Regions from separate parts of the Homo sapiens genome. Here region 2 is reported to be linked to region 1. The links are microRNA targets in miRTarBase. Many come from high-throughput screens and were not tested one by one. Region 1 holds a microRNA gene; the other region holds the end of a gene's coding sequence.
Evidence for each region. The annotated mature microRNA hsa-miR-876-3p reads UGGUGGUUUACAAAGUAAUUCA and lies in region 1 at 1,843-1,864, opposite strand. An mRNA with a match to its seed (bases 2 to 7 or 8) in the 3' UTR can be bound and repressed. Matches are read on the target gene's strand: a 7mer-m8 pairs with bases 2 to 8, a 7mer-A1 pairs with bases 2 to 7 and ends in A, and an 8mer does both.

Region 1 (3,183 bases):
TAATTCATTGTTTGTAAACCTGTATTTATCTTAAAAATAAAAAAAGCGGTAGTGAAATAAATATAAAGAAGTTGGGATTAAAATTAGGATACAAGGATATAGGTACATGATTATGAGATATGCTTATTAGTCCATTAGCACATCCCATTATATCTCCCGTAAACTAAAAATTATCTTAAGAAAAAATATTGTGACTTCCTTCTAAATTCATATATCAGCAGTTCTACATATTATCATTAAAAACATAAGCTTCGGCTCAAAGGAAATTTTACAGGTGCCCCCTTTCATAAAACAGAAAAATCAAAGAGCTCTAGGACAAATTAATTTCAGAAACCTGTCTTCTCAGACTCTTTTCCCACCTGTCCTCACACATCAGCAAAGTAGCACCCAACAAAAGCACAGGAAATCCCAGAGCTCTGTGGATTTTGCTTATGAACATACAGTCCTATGAAAAATAAGGTTACATATGTATCAGACAAGGAATGGTAATAATAAATACTGAAGAATTAAAGGCTAGGAAATAAGAATAACATGTTTGTATCATAGTTCAAATTAAATTAGAGTAGCAAGATATTTCTTAGGTAAAGCATTTCCAATCATATTTATACACATATATTTTAAGGTTAAAAGTATACATATTGATTCATTCTTTTGGTCATTTATATGTTGAAAAATAATATACTGATTTTCTTTTATCTAACAGAAGGGCTTAAAAATTAGTATGCTAATTTATTTAAAGTCACCCAACCTTATAGAGCATATGCATAATCCACTTCTAAGGAATGAAACATAACAGGACAAAATAAAGTCATAATGAATACAATAGATATATTCAATGATGATGCAAAAGTAATTTCAGAAGCCTGTACCACTGTCACTTAGGTGTCCAGATGTGTCACTTAAGAAATTAAAGGTCAGAAGTTTTCATAGTTCTGACAGTCTTATAGTCATACCATTGAACTTAAATAAGACCTACGCTCTAGCCTTGGAAATAAATAAAAAACGGTAAAACCAAAATGACTATTTGAAAGCTTAATCAGTTATTAAAATAGTTAATCATCAATTGTTTGATTTATGGTCAGGGATAATCCATTCTTGGTAATCCTGATGACAGAAATGACCACAAAGTTCCATTTATTTTAATAAGCAATTACTAGTCAACAATTAGGCTTTTGTGACCTTGTAAAGGTTACACAATCTTTTCTGTCATAGAATAGGACTATAGATACTGTTTCCAGAAGAGTAAATGAAAATGAATGCCCAGTGAATACCTAATTTTAATATATGCCATCAAAATGTACAATTTGGTATGTTAAGGTGATTTTTTTTGCCCACACCAATGTTTTTCTTGTTAAAATAAAATGTTGCTTTTTACAAAAGTACTGCATAACAATGATGTCTTCAAGCCCCTGATCATTTACCAAACTATTTAATTAATATATTAATTGGGCATAATAATCCAAATAAAATATGATATTTAAACTTCAAAATGGTATGCTTAGGATTTAAGGGGCTGATTCAATTAATGTTTCTGATGTATCATGTTTTTTTAACCAAGAAATATTACAAATTACTTTTCAAAAAAAGAACAGTAGAGACAGAGACAGCAACTATGTAAAACATGTATATTTAGGTAAAGTAACCATAATTTCTGGTGTGTTTGACACAGGTTTGATCACTGTTAACACTAAGCACCAAATAGAAGGATTCTAGAGTATATTTACCAGGGATCTCTTGACTTTGTGTGTCTTGTAATACAAAGTGGCTTGTTCTCAATGGCTCAGTAAAGGAATCTTAGGCTTCATGGTGTAGATCAACTGCAGAAGCACCTGTGAAGCACTATGAATTACTTTGTAAACCACCACCACATTAGCTTAGATATGGTGATTCACAAAGAAATCCACAGCACTTCACAGTTTGTGTAAAGCCTGGTACCTATGAACCAACAAAAACAGTACCCTTTGGCCACCAAAAGTTGAGGAAGTATTTCCATCTAGTTCACAATCAATTGAAGAATATGCTCAGTTTTGCACCACCCTCTTTTAGCTGAAACACACAAGAAACACTGAACATTTATTTTAAGTAAATAAAACTTAAAAATAAATGCATGCTTTCTATATTATATACCAGTAAATTTCATTTAAAAGAATTCCTAATACAATAACTAGCATGACATTATGCAGGATGAAAAAACAGGGTTCTGCTCATCAAAATAAAAGGGCATGGTTATTAATATAGATGTCAGGAGTAGGGAGTAGAATAAATAATAAAACTATATGTAATTCTCACATCCATATCACAGTATATAAGTGTTGCTGGGATAATTTGTTCTAAAGATATCCTCAGTTACTTAGCTTCCCACTTTATACTCATATAATCTCATATCCTATGACACAAGCTTACCAATGTTACAAATCTGCCCTTGTACCCCTGAACTTAAAATAAAAGTTCAAAGGCAATCATTAAATGAGTTTAACCTGAGTGTTTTTTCCTCTGATATTTGTCCAAGTAAGTATTTTTTCATATGACTGCTGAAGTCCAAGAATGTTTATAAAACTAAATTCTATATTATACATATTAGGTTCAACTCTGAAAGAAAACCACACCAATAAAAAATGAAAAACAAACAATAAAGTTACTCTCCTTTGCAAAATAACCAGAATCCCACCTTTTAACTTTTATCTAAAGAGCAAAAAGAAAGGTTTCATTTATAATTAATGAAAAGAATCTATAAATCTTCCCAGCCTAGTAAGCATAATATCAATCAAGTAATTCATGCTTTTGAAAATTTCAACATTTTTCAAAGTAACCATCAAATGTCAACATTAATTAAAAGTTTGCTTTATAGAAGCTCATGAACATAAGAGTCCTAGGCAGTTCACCACTGTCAGTGTAGGTCACTGCTCAGGAATACCCTACTCACCTCCACCAACCACACATATAACAACCAAGCCAAACTTGCTAAGTATCTGAATAATTAAAAATATTTAAATAAAAAATTTGTAGAAAATATGTATGTATGAAAAAAAAATATTTGTTTTGCGCTTATCATGTGCCAGGCATAGTCTTGGTTAGATGCTGGGGATATAAAAACTCCAGGTTTCAAGAAATACAAAGGAGAAAACAAGAATTTGAAAAAAGCAGTAATAGGTGTTATGAAAAGTTTCCATATAGGGCTAATGG
Region 2 (3,183 bases), not on the chromosome of region 1:
ACATGCCACCATGCCCAGCTAATTTCTTTTCTTTTAGAGATGGGAGCCTTGCCCAGGCTAGTCTCAAACTCCTAGCCTCAAGTGATCCTCCCATCTCAGCCTCCCAAAGTGACAGGATTACAGGTGTGAGCCACCATGCCTGGCTGCTCTGTAAGTGTCTGAATTTCATTTTGTATTTATCAGTCTGTTTAGATTTTCTTTCCCTTCTTGGGTCAGTTAGGCCATTGGTTTCTTTTTAAAGGTTTTCAAATTTATTTGCATCTAATTCTTCAAATTACTCTCAAAATTATTCCAGTATATATTCTTTTGTTCCTATTTTCTTCTGTATTCTTTATTAAAATAGCTAATGATTTATCTAGCAGGACTTATATTCTTTCCATAACTTTCCTGCACCCCAATTAATCTCCAATTTTATATTTCTTCTGGCCTTCCTTATAGTTTCCACAGGTTTATTTTATTCATTTTTTAAAACTTTTATTTAATTGTTTATTTTATTATCATTCTTTCTTATTCAGCAATCTAAGTGCTTAGGGATATAGAATTTCCTCTAAGCAGCATATGCTAGGCTTTAACAATGTTAGGGAGGCCTCCCCTTTCTGGGGAAGACCACACTTACATTAACACAGGACTGTGGGATGCCAAGAGGTAGAGAAGAGCTTATGAATATCCAGATTACATCTTCACTGATCCTGCACAAAGGTGGGGTTCCTCGGTTACCCACTGGGTCCTATTACCCAAGTCTGGGTCAGCATACCGAGACTACGGGTATATAGAACAAGTGCAACTGGCGATAATCCTTCTGTTGGGGAGAAAAATCTTTTTTTTCTATTCATCTTAGGTTCTCCATCTGTGGCCCTATCAAGTAGACTAACAAAAGACAGATTGACAAGACAGAAACAAAGCATGTGCATTGTACAAACACAGGGGAGTACTGAGATGAATACTCAAAAGAGGATTTAGAACTTGGGCTTATATAGCATTTTAAGAAAAGAATACATTTTTTAAGTGACAAGGAAGACGAAAAGGACTTTGAGTTTCTAGTGCAGTAAATTGTGGGAAGGCAACTTTTTCTTTCCCTTTTTTTTTTTTTTTTTTTAAAAAAAAAGACTTCTCTGGTGCTATGTCCAGGCTGATAAGAGTCTAAAGTCTCTGGTGACTAACTTTTGTTCTTCCCCGAGTAAGAAGACACCTTCACAATTTCATATCCTGCTTTTAGGCAAATAGGGAGAGGGCAGAGGTGTTTGTTTGTTTTTAATCTATTTTTTTTCTCAATTGTCTTCAACTCAAAATACTTCTTATGCCAAAGATGGCATATTCTGCTACCCTTCACTTACTACTTACAACCCAGCCTCTATCATCATAATTAGAACTTCTGACCCTGGGGAACATGGGCAATAGTTTGAACTCTTTTATATCTCCCTTAGGCAGAGATGGAGGCCCAGCCATGCCTCTGACATCTAGACACAACTGTTGCTTCATTTCTCCTATTCTCAGAGGTGATGTTGTAGGACTTCAACAAATATCAGTAAACATTAATTTTTTTTTTCCTTGAGGCACAGCATGATCTTGGCTTACTGCAGCTGCTGCAGGCTCAAGCAATTCTCCTGCCTTGGCCTCACGAGTAGCTGGGTTACAGGCCCCTACCACCATGCCCGGCTAATTTTTGTATTTTTAGTAGAGACAGGGTTTCACCATGTTGGCCAGGCTGGTGTTGAACTCCTGACCTCAAGTGATCCACCTGCCTCAGCCTCACATAGTTCTGGGATTACAGGCGTGAGCCACCATGCCTGGCCATCAATTTTTATGTCAACTCTAAATTATAACATTTAGCAATTTTGTGACTTTTTATGGTCATCATTAATGTTGTTTATGTTTTAGTTGTAGTCCTGTCATTACTCACTCGGGTATGGTAATTTGGTCTTTTTCAAAATGAAGTTAAGGTCTATTTGCTCTTCTCTGAATCATAATAAGAACTGCCAACAGCCATTTCAGCAATAACTATTTACTGAGATTTTAAAATATTTCAAGGTAATTGGTCCTAGCAGACTGGAAAATACCAAATTCTTTTCCAGAACTGAATCCCCCATCAAAGTTCAATTTTACTCATAATTCCCTTTTCATTTGAAGCATCTCATTGTAAGCCAGTCTTAACCCTTCTCTCACACTTTGCTTGGCTGTTTCTCAGGTAGAACTCAGTAAGTCTGGTAGCCTCCAGGACTGCCGCTTAGATTATTAAACAACATGTCAGTGGTTGGAAGAGTCAATGTTATTTTGATTTTTCTGTTTTGTTTTGTTTTAAATGCAGTTGGCGGATAATTGCAGCTTTCTTTCATTCCCTACATGAGTTCAAATGGCAGCAAACAAACTAGGAGAACGCAGACCTTCTGACTTGTGGGTACCCCTACTCATCACCTGAAGACCCTTGGAAATCAAAGCCCTGACCCATTAAAGACGGATGGAGACAGCAACATACGATCATCACTATTATCTTGCTTTGCCCCAGTCCAGGTTAACCATCTGTGGTATTTTTAGTTGCTAAGTCCATATATTCAACATAAATCAATTATATATCCACTAAAATCTCAGCACTAGTCTAACTACTAAGGAAATGACAGCGAAGAAAACAGACCAAACGTCTGCCCTTATGGGATTTATATTATTTTCTCTGTGCTGGTTAAACCAAGGAGCTTCTGCTCTTTTCCTTAGTCACCTGGGGGAGGCAGAAACAAAGGAGAATATTGATAAACCTGGAAATAGGGCCGGAGAGTATCAGAGAAGGAAGCCTTCGGGAAAGTAAAGATGTGGCAGCCAGTATTCCCGTTATAAAAGGATACAACTCCGGCCTCATAGTCCAGAAAAATTCCCACAAGCAGGGGCTGCTCATGCAGATGAAGGGAAGTTGGGGGAGAAGTAAGTGCTACATAGCCTTTCTTTTTGCACAGCCTGAGGGTCCAGAATCCAGACTGAGGCTCTTGCTTCATGCCAGTGCCCCTCTGCACATTTTCCATACAAACTCCTAAATCCCATCCGGTTCCTTCGCCAACATCCACTTCAAAGTAACGTCTTCCTGAGGTGAAGCCTTCACAACCCAAGACACAGGGGAAGGCAGTAAATCTCCTGGAAGATGTGTCCTGATTCTCCTGGGTGTATCCACGAGTCACTTGTCTCCGATCCTCAGAGAGA

Region 2: the mRNA of TRIM38 is a reported target of hsa-miR-876-3p. The part of its 3' UTR that is shown has no 7-base or 8-base seed match.

The regions. Positions count from the first base shown.
Region 1 is chr9:28,861,794-28,864,976 of GRCh38, forward strand. It overlaps MIR876 (microRNA 876), which reads right to left and starts at 1,913; the gene lies at 1,833-1,913. The region is part of intron 2 of LINGO2 (leucine rich repeat and Ig domain containing 2); the gene reads right to left.
Region 2 is chr6:25,983,207-25,986,389 of GRCh38, reverse strand. TRIM38 (tripartite motif containing 38) reads right to left here. Exons shown (of 8, transcript NM_006355.5): 8 at 1-3,183. The coding sequence ends at 2,703. Among named protein-coding and RNA genes, the nearest start is that of LINC02980, 7.9 kb to the left of the region's middle.